Homo sapiens: one gene and its partner. The protein of the gene in region 1 interacts with the protein of each later gene in a pairwise test. Each region holds a gene or a part of one and is shown in the gene's direction. Other genes may lie near its edges.

Region 1 (7,044 bases):
AGTGAGCCAAGATCATGCCACTGCACTCCAGCCTGGGCGACAGAATGAGACTCCATCTCAAAAAAAAAAAAAATCTCCCTCCCAAAGATGTCTGTTGGCTGGATGTGGTGGCTCACACCTGTAATCCCAGCACTTTGGGAGCCCTAGGAGGGAGGATCTTCAGTTCAGGAGTTTGAGAACAGCCTGGACAACATACTGAGACCCCATCTCTACAAAAATAAAAATTAAAAAATTAGCCAGGCGTGGTGGCACGTGCCTGTAGTCTCAGGTACTCAGGAGGCTGAGGTGGAAGGATCATTTGAGCCTGAGAGGCCAGGGCTACAGTTAGCTGTGATTGCATCACTGCACTCCAGCCTGGGTGACAGAGTGAGATTCTGTCTCAAAAAAAATAGAACTCCTCCCGCATGTGGCTTAAAGCCATACTGAAATTTGTGGTAGGTCACAGGGTAACCTTCAATCCAGAGAAATAAAGCAGGGCAAGAGGGGTAAGGAGCAGGGATATTGATAAGGTAATGCTTGAGCAGCAACCTGAAGGGAGTGAGGGACTGAGTCACATAGATAACTAGCCCAGGCAATGGAGTAGGTGAAGTGGGGTGCAGGGGGAAAGTTCAGCAACGGCAAAGTTCTAAAGTTAAAGAGTGCCCAGGAGGCTTAAGGAAAGCCAGGAGGCCACTATGGCTGGGCTGAATCACAGTTAGTGGGGAAAAAGGATAAGAGATGAGGTCAAAGAAGTAATGGGGAAGGAGTTATGTTGAGTGGGGCCTTGTGCACCACTGTGAGGAAATTGGCTTTCTCACTGAGTAAGGTGGGACCATTACAGAGTTGTGAGCAGAGGAACTGCATGACCTGAGTTCTGTATCAAGAGAATCACTTTGCTGTAAGAAGCACAGATTATGCAGGGACAAGGGCAAAAGAGGGGAGACTAGATAGGAGATTACTGCAACAATCTCCTAGAGAGACACTGGTGGCTTTGACCACAGTGGTAGCTGTGGAGGTGACAAGTGGTCAGATTCTGGATATAGGCATTTCCCACTTAACATCAGTAATCTGTTTCATGAAAATTGGACATTCTGTGTGAAATCTTCAACTTAATATATTTTCCATTGATTGATTGATTGAGACAGGGTCTTGCTGTGTTGCCCAGGCTGGAGTACAGTGGCACAATCACGGCTCACTGCAGCCTTGACCTCCTGTACTCAAGCGATCCTCCCACCTCAGCCTCTTAAGTAGGTGGGACTACAGGCATGAGCTGCCCCACCCAGCTGATTTTTTATTTTGTAGAGACAGGGTCTCACTATGTCAGCCAGGCTGGCACTCAGTAATTTTCTATCAGTTCTATTTGGAATATAATTTGAAGCTTTAAATGCACATTACTTTGTTAAAAATATAGATAAGATTTTAATGATGTAAATATACATATTTTCTGTATAAACATACACTGGGCCAGGTGTGGTGGCTCACACCTGTAATCCCAGTACTTTGAGAGGCTGAGGCAGGCAGATCACTTGAGTCAAGGAGTTTGAGAGCAGCTTGGGCAACATAAGGAGACCCTGTCTCTACAAAAAATTAAAAAATTAGCCAGGCATGGTGGCACATGCCTGTGGTCCCAGCTACTTGGGAGGCTGAGGTGGGAGGATCACTTGGGCCTGGGAGGTTGAGGCTACAGTGAACCATGATCACACTATTGCACTTCGGCCTGGGTGGCAGAGTGAGACCCTGTCTCAATAGATAAATAAATAAACATAAGCTGAATCAACATAAGTTTGGTATATTAGTTAACTATTGCTGTGTAACAAATTATGCCAAAACTTAGCAGCTTAAAACAACAATATTTATTATCTCATACAGTTCTTGTGGGTCAAGAATTTGGGAGTGGCTTAGCTGGATGGCTCAAGCTCAGGGTCTCTTATTACGTTGAAGTCATCTGAAGGTTTGACTGGGCCTAGATGATCTGCTTCCGAGATGACTCACTCATGACTAGCAAGTTGGTACTGGCTGTTCACAGGAGGTCTCAGTCCCTTGCCATGAAGTTCTCTCCATAGAGCTGCTTACATGTCCTTACAACATGGCTGATGGCTTTCCCTAGAGGGAATGATCCAAGAGAACAAGGCAGAAGCCACAATGTCTTTTATGACCTAGCCTCAGAAGTCACACATTGTTTTTTCATTTTTTTTTGAGACAGGGTCTGCTCTGGCACCCAAGCTGGAGTGCAGCAGTGCGATCTCAGCTCACTGCAACCTCTGCCTCCCCCCGGGTTCAAGTGATTCTCATACCTTAGCCTCCCAAGCAGTTGGGATTACAGGCGCCCGTCATGACACCTAGGTAATTTTTGTATTTTTAGTAGAGATGGGGTTTCACCATGTTGTCCAGGCTGGTCTCAAACTCCTGACCTCAAGTGATCAGCCCATCCTGGCCTCCCAAAGTGCTGGGATTACAGGCATAAGCCACTGTCCCCAGCCACACATTGTTATTTACACAGTGTCCTATTGGTTGCATAGGTCAGCCCTGCTCAGTGTGGAAAGGGAGTATGCAAAGTCGCATAGCAGGAGTTGAGGATTACTAGAGACCATCTTGAAGGCTGACAACCAAGCTGGATATTAAAAACAAAAAGGCATTCTATGGTGAAAATGTTAACTAGAGACATTTTGCTGGATGTGCCTGTATTCTGAAATAGAGCTAACAGGATTTGCTGATGGTTTGGTATATGAGGTGTGGGGAAAAAAAGAGAGGCGTAAGGGATGACTCCAAGGTTTTTTGTTTTTTTTTTTTCCTATGAGACAGAGTCTCGCTCTGCCACCCAGCCTGGAGTACAACGACACGATTTTGGCTCACTGCAACCTCTGCCTCTCCAGTTCAAGCAATTCTCCTGTCTCAGCTTCCTGAGTAGCTGGAACTACAGGCACGTGCCACCATGCCCGGCTAATTTTTTGTATTTTTAGTAGAGACAGGGTTTCACCGTGTTAGCCAGCAAGGTCTCGATCTCCTGACCTCATGATCTGCCTGCGTCGGCCTCCCAAAGTGCTGGGATTACAGGTGTGAGAAACCGTGCCCGGCCGACTCCAAGGTTTTTCACCAAACAACTGAAAGAATGAGATTGTCTTTCTTGGCCAGGTGAGGTGGCTCACACCTGTAATCCCAGCACTTTGGGAGGCCAAGGTGGGCAGATCACAAGGTCAGGGGTTTGAGACTAGCCTGGCCAACATGGTGAAACCCTGTCTCTACTAAAAATACAAAAATTAGCCAATGTGGTGGCACACGCCTGTAGTCCCAGCTACTCGGGAGGCTGAGGCATGAGAATCGCTTGAACCTGGGAGGTGGAGCTGAGATTGCGCTGTTGCACTCCAGCCTAGGCAACAGAGCAAGACTGTCTCAAAAAAAAAAAAAAAAGAGCTTGTCTTTCTTTCGTTCTTCCCTTCCTTTCTTTCTTTCTTTCCTTCCTTTCTTCCTTTCCTTCCTTTCCCTCCTTCCCCTCCTTCCCCTTCCTTCCTTCCTCCCTTCCCTCCCTCCCTCCCTCCCTTCCTTCCCTCCCAGAGTCTCGCTGTGTCACCCAGGGTGGAGTGCGGTGGCGCGATCTCAACCTCCACCTCCCGGGTTCAAGGGATTCTCCTGCCTCAGCCTCCCGGGGTAGCTGGAATTACAGGCATGCGCCACCACACCCGGCTAATTTTTTGTATTTTTCATAGAGATGGGGTTTCACCGTGTTAGCCAGCATGGTCTCGATCGCCTGACCTCATGATCTGCCTGCCTCGGCCTCCCAAAGTGCTGGGATTACAAAGTGTGAGAAACCGTGCCCGGCTGACTCCACGGTTTTTCACCAAACAACTGAAAGGATGAGATTGTCTTTCTTGGCCAGGTGTGGTGGCTCACACCTGTAATCCCAGCACTTTGGGAGGCCAAGGCAGGCGGATCACCAGGTCAGGGGTTTGAGACCAGCCTGGCTAACATGGTGAAACCCTGTCTCTACTAAAAATACAAAAATTAGCCTGTGTGGTGGCACACGCCTGTAGTCCCAGCTACTTAGGAGGCTGAGGCACGAGAATTGCCTGAACCCAGGAGGTGGAGCTGAGATCGCACTGTTGCGGTGAGCTGAGATCGCGCCATTGCACTCCAGCCTGGGCAACAGAGCAAGACTGTCTCAAAAAAAAAAAAAAGAAATTGTCTTTTTTTCTTTCGTTCTTTCCTTCTTTCCTGGCTTCTTTCCTTTCTTCTTTTCCTTCCTTTCTTCCTTTCCTTCCTTTCCCTCCTTCCCCTTCCTTGCTTCCTTCCTTCTTTCCTTCCTTCCCTCCTTCCTTCCCTCCTTCTTTCCCTCCCTCCCTCCCTCCCTCCTTCCTTCTCTCCCTCCCTCCTTCCCTCCTTCCTTCCTTCCTTCCTCCCTTTACAGAGTCTCGCTCTGTCACCCAGGGTGGAGTGTGGTGGCACGATCTCAACCTCCGCCTCCTGGGTTCAAGCTGGAGTGCGGTGGTGCGATCTCAACTCTGCCTCCCAGGTTCAAGCGATTCTCCTGCCTCAGCCTCCCGGGGTAGCTGGGATTACAGGCATATGCCACCACACCTGGCTAATTTTTTTATTTTTAATAGAGACGGGGTTTCACTGTGTTAGCCAGGATGGTTTCGATCTCCTGACCTTGTGATCTGCCCACCTCGGCCTCCCAAAGTGCTGGGATTATAGGCGTGAGCCACTGCTCCCGGCCGTCTTTCTTTCTTTCTTTTTTTTTTTTTGAGACAGAGCTTTGCTCTTATTGCCCAGGCTGGAGTGCAATGGCGTGATCGTGGCTCACTGCAACCTCTGCCTCATGGGTTCAAGTGATTCTCCTGCCTCAGCCTCCCAAGTAGCTGGGATTACAGGCATGCACCACCACACTTGGCTAATTTTGTATTTTTAGTAGAGATGGGGTTTCACCATGTTGGCCAGGCTGGTCTTGAACTCCTGACTTCAGGTGATCCACCCACCTCGGCCTCCCAAAGTGCTGGGATTACAGGCATGAGCCACTATGCCCAGCCATGAAATTGTCTTTTACTGAGATGGTGAAAACTCTGGGAGAAGTGGTAAGTGCCTGTAGTCCCTGCTACTCGGGAGGCTGAGGCAGGAAGTTCACTTGAGCCCAGGAATTTGAGGCTGTAGTGCATGGTGGGGTGGTGATTACACCTGTGAATAGCCACTGCACTCCAGACTTGGTGACAGAGCAAGACCCCATCTCTTAAAAAAAAAAAAAAAAAAGTGCTACCACGCCCGGCTAATTTTTTGTATTTTTGGTAGAGATGGGTTTCCCGTGTTAGCCAGAGTGGTCTCGATATCCTGACCTGGTGATCCGCCCACCTCAGCCTCCCAAAGTGCTGGGATTACAGGCGTGAGCCACTGCACCCGGCCTTTTTTTCTTTTTAAAGACAGGTTCTCTACCAGCCAGGCGTGGTGGCTCAGGCCTGTAATCCCAGCACTTTGGGAGGCTGAGGCAGGCGGATCATGAGGTCAGGAGGTTGAGACCATCTTGGCTAACACGGTGAAACCTCGTCTCTACTAAAAAATACAAAAAATTAGCCGGGTGTGGTGGCAGGCGTCTGTAGTCCCAGCTACTCGTGAGGCTGAGACAAGAGAATGGCATGAACCCAGGAGGTGGAGCTTGCAGTGAGCTGAGATCGCGCCACTGCACTCCAGTCCAGGCGACAGAGCGAGACTCCATCTCAAAAAAAGAAAAAAAAAAGGAGACAGGGTCTCACTCTTATTGCCGAGGCTGGAGTGCAGTGGCACGATCTTGGCTCATTGCAAGCTCTACCTCCCGGGTTCCTGTGATCCTCCCACCTTAGCCTCCTGAGTAACTGGGACCACAGACACGTGCCACCACGCCTGGCTAATTTTTGTATTTTTGTAGAGGCAGGGTTTGCCATATTGCCCAGGCTGGTCTTGAACTCCTGGGCTCAAGTAATCTGCTTGCTTTGGCCTCCCAAAGTGCTAGGATTACAGGTGTAAGCCACCATACCCAGCTAGGAGCAACTTTTTAAGGAGATGACCTTTTTTTTTTTTGATGCAGAATCTGGCTCTGCTACCCAGGCTAGAGTGCAGTGGCACGATCTTGGCTCACTGCAACCTCCGCCTCCCACATTCAAACAATTCTCCTGCCTCAGCCTCCTGAGTAGCTGGGATTACAGGCGTGTGCCACCACACCCAGCTAATTTTCATATTTTTAGTAAAGATGGGGTTTCACCAGGTTAGCCAGGCTGGTCTCAAACTTCTGACCTCGTGATCCACCCTCCTCGGCCTCCCAAAGTGCTGGGATTACAGGTGAGAGCCACCACGCCTGGCCAGGAGATGGCCTTTTTAAGGAGTTCAGTTTGAGGCATATAACCTTGAGATAACATGAAGTAGACAGTTAAATGTGTGTGCCTCTTTAAGTCAGAAAAGATATTGGGGCTGGAGATTAAAAAAAAGTATTAATATGTAGAGGGAATTTAAAACTATGAGACCAAATGAGATCACCAAGGGATTGAGTGAAGACAGAGAAGAGGTCCAAAGACTGAATTCTGTGCCCCTTTACAGTAAGAACTGCAAAAAGGACTCAGAAGGAGTAGTCCATGAGGTCAGAAGAGAGCCAAGAAAGGAGTGGTATGCCATAAAAGAGGAGAAAATGTTTCAAGAGAGAGGAAATAACCAAATTATCTATTGTTTATGGGTGAAGTAAGATGATCCTGGAGGTCGTTGGTGACCTTGATGGGAGCAGTGTTGATGGAGTAATGGAGGTGAGATTCTGTTCAGAACTGGTTTAGAGAGAATGGGAGAAATGGAGAGGCTACGGCAGAGACAATTCCTGCTTTCCAGATATCCGTGAGCTCCATATATTTCCCAGTCCCTCTGGCCACATCACTGGTTCTGGCCAATGTGAGCTACGAAGTATTTAAGAGCTGGTACATGATCCTCCATCTCTGTCTTCCCTTGCCAGGTGATGTGGAAGGCATGTGTTCCGAATGGCTTCTATAGGGTGCTAGTGGCTTGGATTCCTGAATCACTGCTTGGAAGGGAGCTACTCTGAATTGCTACCAGTCCCACAGTAGA
Region 2 (7,044 bases), on another chromosome or scaffold:
GACTCAGAAAAGGCTTTCTACAGCAGTACCCCCGAGCCAAAGGCCATGTGTTCCAAAACCCCCGGGAGGTGCCTGAAACCGGGGACAGTACCAAACCCTTCACTTGCTGTGTTTTTTCCTGTACATACATGCCTGTGATAATGTTTATAAATTCAGTACAGTAAGCGATTAATAAGGCTGGGCGCAGTGGCTCACACCTGTAATCCCAGCACTTTGGGAGGCCGAGGCAGGCAGATCACTTGAGGCCAGGAACTTGAGACCAGCCTGGCCAGTGTGGTGAAACCCTGCCTCTACTATAGATAGAAAAATTAGCCAGGCATGGTGGCATGCACATGTAATCCAAGTTACTCAGGAGGCTGAGTCAGGAGAATCTCTTGAACTTGGGAGGCGGAGGTTGCAGTGAGCCAAGATCGTGCCACTGCACTCCAGCCTGGACAAGAGTGAGACCCCATCTCAAAACAAGTAATAGTAATCATAATTGGACGATGACACTCTACTGCAATAAAAGTCATGTGAATGCGGTTTGCTTCCCCCTTCCCTCAATATTTTATTATACTGTCCCTCACATAACAGAAACCATGGGAAACAAAACCAGGGGGAAGGAAGAATGGCGGCACTCACAGCTGCGGTTTATTACAGTGGAAGAATACAGGTTAAAATCAGCCCGGGGAAGAGGCGTGTGGGGCAGGGCGCAGGAGCCACCAATGGAAGGACCAGGAGTCCTTCTATTTGCTTTAGGTTGGTTTGGGTTGGTTTGGTTTTTTGGGTTTTTGTTTTGTTTTTTGTTTTTTTTTTTTTTGGTTTTTTGGTTTTTGAGATGGAGTCCCACTCTGGTGTGAGCTTCCGGCTGTCCTCTCCCGTTGGGGTCATGTGGACAGCCCAGTGAGTGTTTCCCCATCGAGGATGTGTGGCTGTCTCTATGGAGTGTTGACATCCAGGGAAGCTCACCTGAGCCTCGAGATCCAGAGATTTGATTGGGGGTTGGCCACAGAGACACAGCTGGCCCCACATGGCCAGCCTTAGTCTCCAGCCCTCCAGAGGTGGAGCGGGTGCTGTGCGGGCTTGGGTGTAAGGGATATTGGCCTGTAGTTTTGTTTTCTTGTGATATCTTTGGGCAATGCTGGCTTGATAAAATGTGTTGGGAAATGTTCCCTCCTATTTTTTTGGAAGACAGTGAAAAATTGGTGTTAATTCCTCTTTACATGTTTCATAGAATTCACAGTCAAGCTCTCTGCACCTGGGCTTTTCTTTGTGGCAAATTTTAAAGTTAACCATTTATGCCCAGTGTTCCATTATTGGAACACTAAGCTTGTGAGAGTTATTTATATCCTGCTGAAGGTCATTGCCAAGGTCTCATTTTTCACAAAAAAGATTTACAACCTCCAGCATAAATGGGTTAATCTCTGTACTTGTTACAGGTTTATTTTGATTTTGTTTCTTCTTGAGTCAGCTTTGGTAGTTTGTGTCTTTCTAGGAATTTGTCAGCTTCAATTAATTTATTTGATTTGTCGGCACGTGGTTTTTCATGGTATTGTAGGTAAAGCCGGATACTCCTTCGTTTTTCCTGTAAAGTCAGTAGTGATGTCTCCTCTTTCATTCCTGGTTTTAGTAATTTGAGTCTTCTCTCTTTGTTCCTTGTTGTATAGTCTAGCTAAAGGTTCTTCATACTTCTGGAATCTTCACAAGAAAAAGGAAAAGTTTTTCAATGTTGGGTCTTTTCAGAGAACAACTTTTGGTTTCATTTATTATCTCTGTGATTTTTCTCTGTTGAGTTTGTTTCTGCTCTCATGCTTTATTATTTCCTTCCATTTGCTTTAGGTTTGTTTGGGTTTTTTTGTTTTTGTTTTTGTTTTTTTTGAGACGGAGTCCTGCTCTGTCACCCAGGCTGGAGTGCAGTGGCACAGTCTCAGCTCACTGCAACCTCTGCCTCCCAGGTTCACATGATTCTCTTGCCGCAGCCTCCTGAGTAGCTGGGATTATAGGCGCACCACCACGCCCGGCTAATTTTTTTGTACTTTTAGTAGAGATGGGGTTTTGCCATGTTAGCCAGGCTGGTCTCAAACTCCTGACCTCAGGTGATCCGCCCACCTCGGCCTCCCAAAGTGCTGGGCTTACAGGTATGAGCCACCACACCCGGCCCCACTTGCTTTAGGTTTAGTTGACTCCTGTTGTCCAGGATCTTAAGACGAAAGGTCAGGTCACTGATTTGAGATCTTTCTTCTCTTGAGACAGGATTTCGCTCTCGGAAGTGGGAAGAGGTACTGGGGCAGGTGGGAATGTGAGTTCAGGAGCGGAGGCTGTGGCTGGTGGAAGGCGGCCAGCGGAGGAAATAGAATGCTATAAACCATAGAGGAGGAGGGGGAAGGCAGACGAGGGGTCACACCTGTCATGACATGAGCAGGAAGTCAGTACGATGCCCAAAGAGGATACGTTGAAGAGTTAGGATAACGCTGTTGTCTAATGACAGTGTAAAGTGGTTGCCGGGGAGGAGGGTCAGAGAACGAAATCTGTGGCTTTCATCATCAGGCCTGGTGTTCTGCTCAGCCTCTCTTAACCATACATTGCTTTGATAACTTTTAAACATTTTTGGTTATCTGTGGTCCTGGTTGTTGTCGGTTGCTAGGTCTAATGTCATAACTGTAATTACTTGCTATAATAAAGTGAGACAGGATGATATCCATTTGCTGTCTTTGTAAACGTGTGTCAATGGAAATCGTCACAGAATAATGGACAGTTTCTGCCAATTCTCTATTCTCTCTGGACTATACACAGAGAGACTAGAACAGTGAACCCCTAAGTCCCCATCACACAAGTGAATAAGATTCTGGTCTTCGTTGCTTCTCCATGTTGTGTTGTCGGGTTTGCAAGAGCATTTTAAGTCATCACGTCAGTCACGAACACTTCCCTGTGCCTCTCTGATGAGGACATCCGTGGTAACCTCCCCACTGGCGCTGTCACACCTGACAAGGTCAACAGCACTCCCCTCGCATCATGGAATGGGCAGTCTGTGTCCAGATGGCTCTAGTTGACCAAAAAGCAGCTTCTTACAGTTGACTTCTCCCCATTGACTTTGAACAGATTGTTATTATACGAAAGTCTCCTTTTTTCCACCATTTCATAACCTCTGGTTTGTTCTGTCTTCCCAGGCCATGAGTGCGGCTGTGTGCTTTATGATCGACGGTGGGTACGCGCCTTTGTCTGATTTCAGCCTAAGCTTTTTGTACTTTGCTGCATCCTATTCTTAAGTGATAAATATGTTTTGGGGGTTTCGGTTGTTTGGGCTTTTTTTGTTGGAGACGGGGTTTCACTCTTGGAGTGCAGTGGCATGATCATAGCTCACTGTAGCCTCGACCTCCTGGGTTCAAGTGATCTTCCCACCTTGGCCTCCTAAGTCGCTGGGACTGCCAGTACACACCGCCGGACCCAGCTAATGTTTTTGTGGTTGTTTGTTTAGACAGGGTCTCACTATGTTGCCCGGGCTAGTGTCAAACTCCTGGGCTCAAGCGATCCACCCATCTTAGCCTCCCAAAGTGCTGGGATTTCGGGCGTGAGCCCCCACACCCAGCCCATTAAATGATAAATGTGTTGTCATAAGCAATATAGAGGCATAGAGAGGAGCCCTGTTCCCCATCTGGGACCCCCCTGTCTCCTTAACTAGCCAGTGCTCATATTTTTTAAGTCCTAGTTTTCCCGCTAGTCAGCAGTAGAGTGTGGGCATCTTTCTGTGTCCCACCGACTGCGAGCTGGAGACAGCAGTGGTACCTCTCTCGGGGGGGTTCTGAGGATCGAATGAGGTCATGTCTGTGAAGCACCTGGCCCATGAGTGCTACGTAATGTTTGTTAAATAAACATACGACCTTCTGAGGTCTTTCTGGGGTAGGCAACCGTTTACCACCCTACAGGGTGTGCCTCGGTCAGCTTTTCACGGTGAGATAGGTCTTCGCCCTTTTTTCATCTGAAATGTAACCGGTTTTCTATCTTCTGTTTCTCTTCTATTTGAGGAGCAGAAGGGGGCCTGAGCATTCATTGTTTGTTTTCCCAGACCAGTGAAGTTTTCGTTTGAATACTGTTGTTCAGCGTCGCACAGTAAAATGAATCTTACTGGTATTTTTTGTCATGACTTGCCAGCCTCTGTCCACCCAACGTTGGATTTTTGCCGAAGACTGGACAGCATCGTTGGGCCCCAGCTCACAGTGCTGGCCTCTGACATCTGTGAACAGTTTAACATCAACAAGAGGATGTCCGGGTTTGTACTTTGCTTTCGGTTCACTTTCAGGCATTGAACGGCTTTTGAAATACACGTAGTTTTCACTTACAAATACGGGTGGTATTAACAGTCCTGTGTTCTCGTGGACTGTAGAGGATGGTGCTACGTGCCATTCAGGCCTCTGTCTGAAAGGGTCCCGGGGACAGTCACCCTGAGTGTTTCTGCCCCACGCTGGCAGCTGGGGCTGGGCCTTCTGGTAAATACCTTCCCTCAGCTCCCCCCGAATGGAACGTCCCATTTCACCAGCCCAGATTGTTACGTTCACTTGGACAGTAGTCATCGGCGTGGTCTTGGTGTGCACAGACTGAAAGCATTTTGCCTCTCGTTGTGTGAAAATGTGTAGGGGAAACTGGCTGGGATGTGGGGCACTGGGCCTGGGTACTCAGTCTGGCAGCCTGAAGTGTCTACACTGAGTGGGAGAGGCGGGATTCACTCCTCCGGCTCTCTAGACACTGAAATGTCCTTGAATTCTTTCTCCCTGGCTTTTTTTTTTTTTTTTTGAGACAAATTCCCACTCTGTCGCCCAGGCTGGAGTGTGCAGTGGCTTGATCTTGGCTCACTGCAGCCTCCGCCTCCCAGGCTCAAGCGATTCTCATGCCTCATCCTCTTGAGTAGCTGGGATTACAGGCGTGCACCACCATGCCCGGCTCCTTTTTGTATTTTTAGTAGAGACGGGGTTTCACCATGTTGGCCAGATTGGTCTTGAACTCCTGACCTCAAGTGATCCACCTGCCTCAGCCTCCCAAAGTGCTGGGATTACAGGTGTGAGCTACCGCACCCGGCCATGCTTATCTTTTCTCAATATAAAATAGTTATTATAAAGTGAAAGTGAGGCGATGGAAAGCACTTTGCGAAGTTGAAGTCCTGCTTTTAAATGGGCTCTCTACACATTTGAGAAGTTACTAAAAGGCTGTGAATTTCTGCATACGCTCATGGTCTTAATGTTCATACGTTGTTTTTTGGGTTTTTTTTTTTTTTTTTTTTAAGACAGAGTCTCAGTTGCCCAGGCTGGAGTGTGCAATGGTCTGTTCTCAGCTCACTGCAACCTCCGCCTCCCAGGTTCAAGCGATTCTCCTGCCTCAGCCTCCTGAGTAGCTGGGTGCCATCATGCCTGGCTAATTTTTGTAGAGACTGGGTTTTACCATGTTGGTCAGACTGGTCTCGAACTCCTGACCTCGTGATCCACCCACTTCGGCCTCCCAAAGTGCTGGGATGACAGGCGTGAGCCACCGCGCCCGGCCCATATGTTATTTCTGCATGGTCTTGTATAACCGTGGGCCTCTAAGAGCGCAGAAGCGAGCAAAGGTGAAAGCACCTCTAGGTTTTGTACAACAGTGTGTGGATTACTGCTGTCAACAGCTTACATCTTTGTTGCTTTTTGTTTTTATTTTTTGAGACAGAGTTTCACTCTTTCACCCAGGCTGGAGTGCAGTGGCATGATCTCAGCTCACTGCAACCTCCAGCCCCTGAGTTCATTCAAGCAATTCTCCTGCCTCAGCCTCCCGAGTAGCTGGGACTCCAGGCGTGTGCCACCACACTCAGCTAATAATTTTTGTATTTTTAGTAGAGACAGGGTTTTGCCATGTTGGCCAGGCTGGTCTTGAACTCCTGACCTCAGGTGATCCACCCACCTCGGCCTTCCAAAGTGCTAGCATTACAGGCATGAGCCACCATGCCCAGCCAACAGCTTATATCTTGACAGTGCTGCTGAATCATTGAATCCTTTGGCCGTGAAAATACCAGGTTTTCCTTTGTGAAGGAGGCAAAAGTGAGTTAAATCGGTTTGGATCATGCAGGTTATCAACTAACAGATGGAAAGTGACAAAGTGTAGTGACCATAGAGAACGTGTCACCTGTTTTGTTTTTTTGTGGGTTTGTTTTTGGAGACAGGGTCTCCTGCTGTCGCCCAGGCTGGAGTGCAGTGGTGCAATCATGGCTCACTGCAGCCTTGACCTCCCAGGCTGTAAGTGATCCTCCTACCTCAGCCTCCCCGGGAGCTAGGACTACAGGTGTGTGCCACCACGCCTGGCTAATTTTTGTATTTTTGGTAGAGGCGGGGTTTCGCCATGTGGCCTAGGCTGATCTCGAACTCCTGACCTCAAGTGATTTGCCTGCCTCAGCCTCCCAAAGTGCTGGGATTATAGGCGTGAGCCACTGCTCCTGGCCTCACAGAGTGTTTTGAGGATAGAAGCTTACACCCGATTTAAGTTCCTTGTCTACCCAGACAACTAAATTTACAACTCTTTCCAAACAGTTTTTCTTGTCATTATACTTTCCTTAACCTTAGGGAACTATGAAAACAAATTCTGGTTTTATAAGAAGTTTCTTTACATGTTCCTGGAAACTCAATCCTCCACGTTCTTTCTTTGCCTGGACGTAGAGTATTTCATGAGTACCCCATTGGTCCGGAGGTCGGATTTCTGGTACCCCCAGCCCTCCAGAACGTGGCTGCTAACCCTGAAGCAAGCAGAGGAGGCCTCTGAGCCCAGGGGCGGGGCTGTGCTCAGGCCCCATCCAGGCCCCAGGGTGGACACTGAGGGTGCAGGGAGGGGAGGGGAGGGGCCCCAGGAGCAGTGAGGCCCAGCTTTTCCCACTAGGTCCCCGAGGAGGTCACAGACTCTGACCTGGGAGGCAGCGTCGTAGCACTGCCTAGTCAGTTTAAGAAATAAAAAGGTACATCCCATTTAAAATGTTCATCAGACTGCAGTGGAAAAGGCGACTGCGTTTTACAGTGATGTCCACTGGGGATGATATGAGGGAAAGCTTCGTTACATAGT

What was found.
Region 2: the proteins of MON1A (region 1) and CCZ1 interact in binary tests that used the Homo sapiens proteins (3 or more experiments, as listed by UniProt).

What each region holds. Positions count from the first base shown.
Region 1 is NC_000003.12:49,919,812-49,926,855, reverse strand, and holds part of MON1A (vacuolar fusion protein MON1 homolog A), read left to right. Parts: intron 1-7,044. UniProt on the Homo sapiens protein: Plays an important role in membrane trafficking through the secretory apparatus. Not involved in endocytic trafficking to lysosomes.
Region 2 is NC_000007.14:5,915,721-5,922,764, forward strand, and holds part of CCZ1 (vacuolar fusion protein CCZ1 homolog), read left to right. Parts: intron 1-3,146; coding exon 3,147-3,180; intron 3,181-4,128; coding exon 4,129-4,246; intron 4,247-7,044. UniProt on the Homo sapiens protein: Acts in concert with MON1A, as a guanine exchange factor (GEF) for RAB7, promotes the exchange of GDP to GTP, converting it from an inactive GDP-bound form into an active GTP-bound form.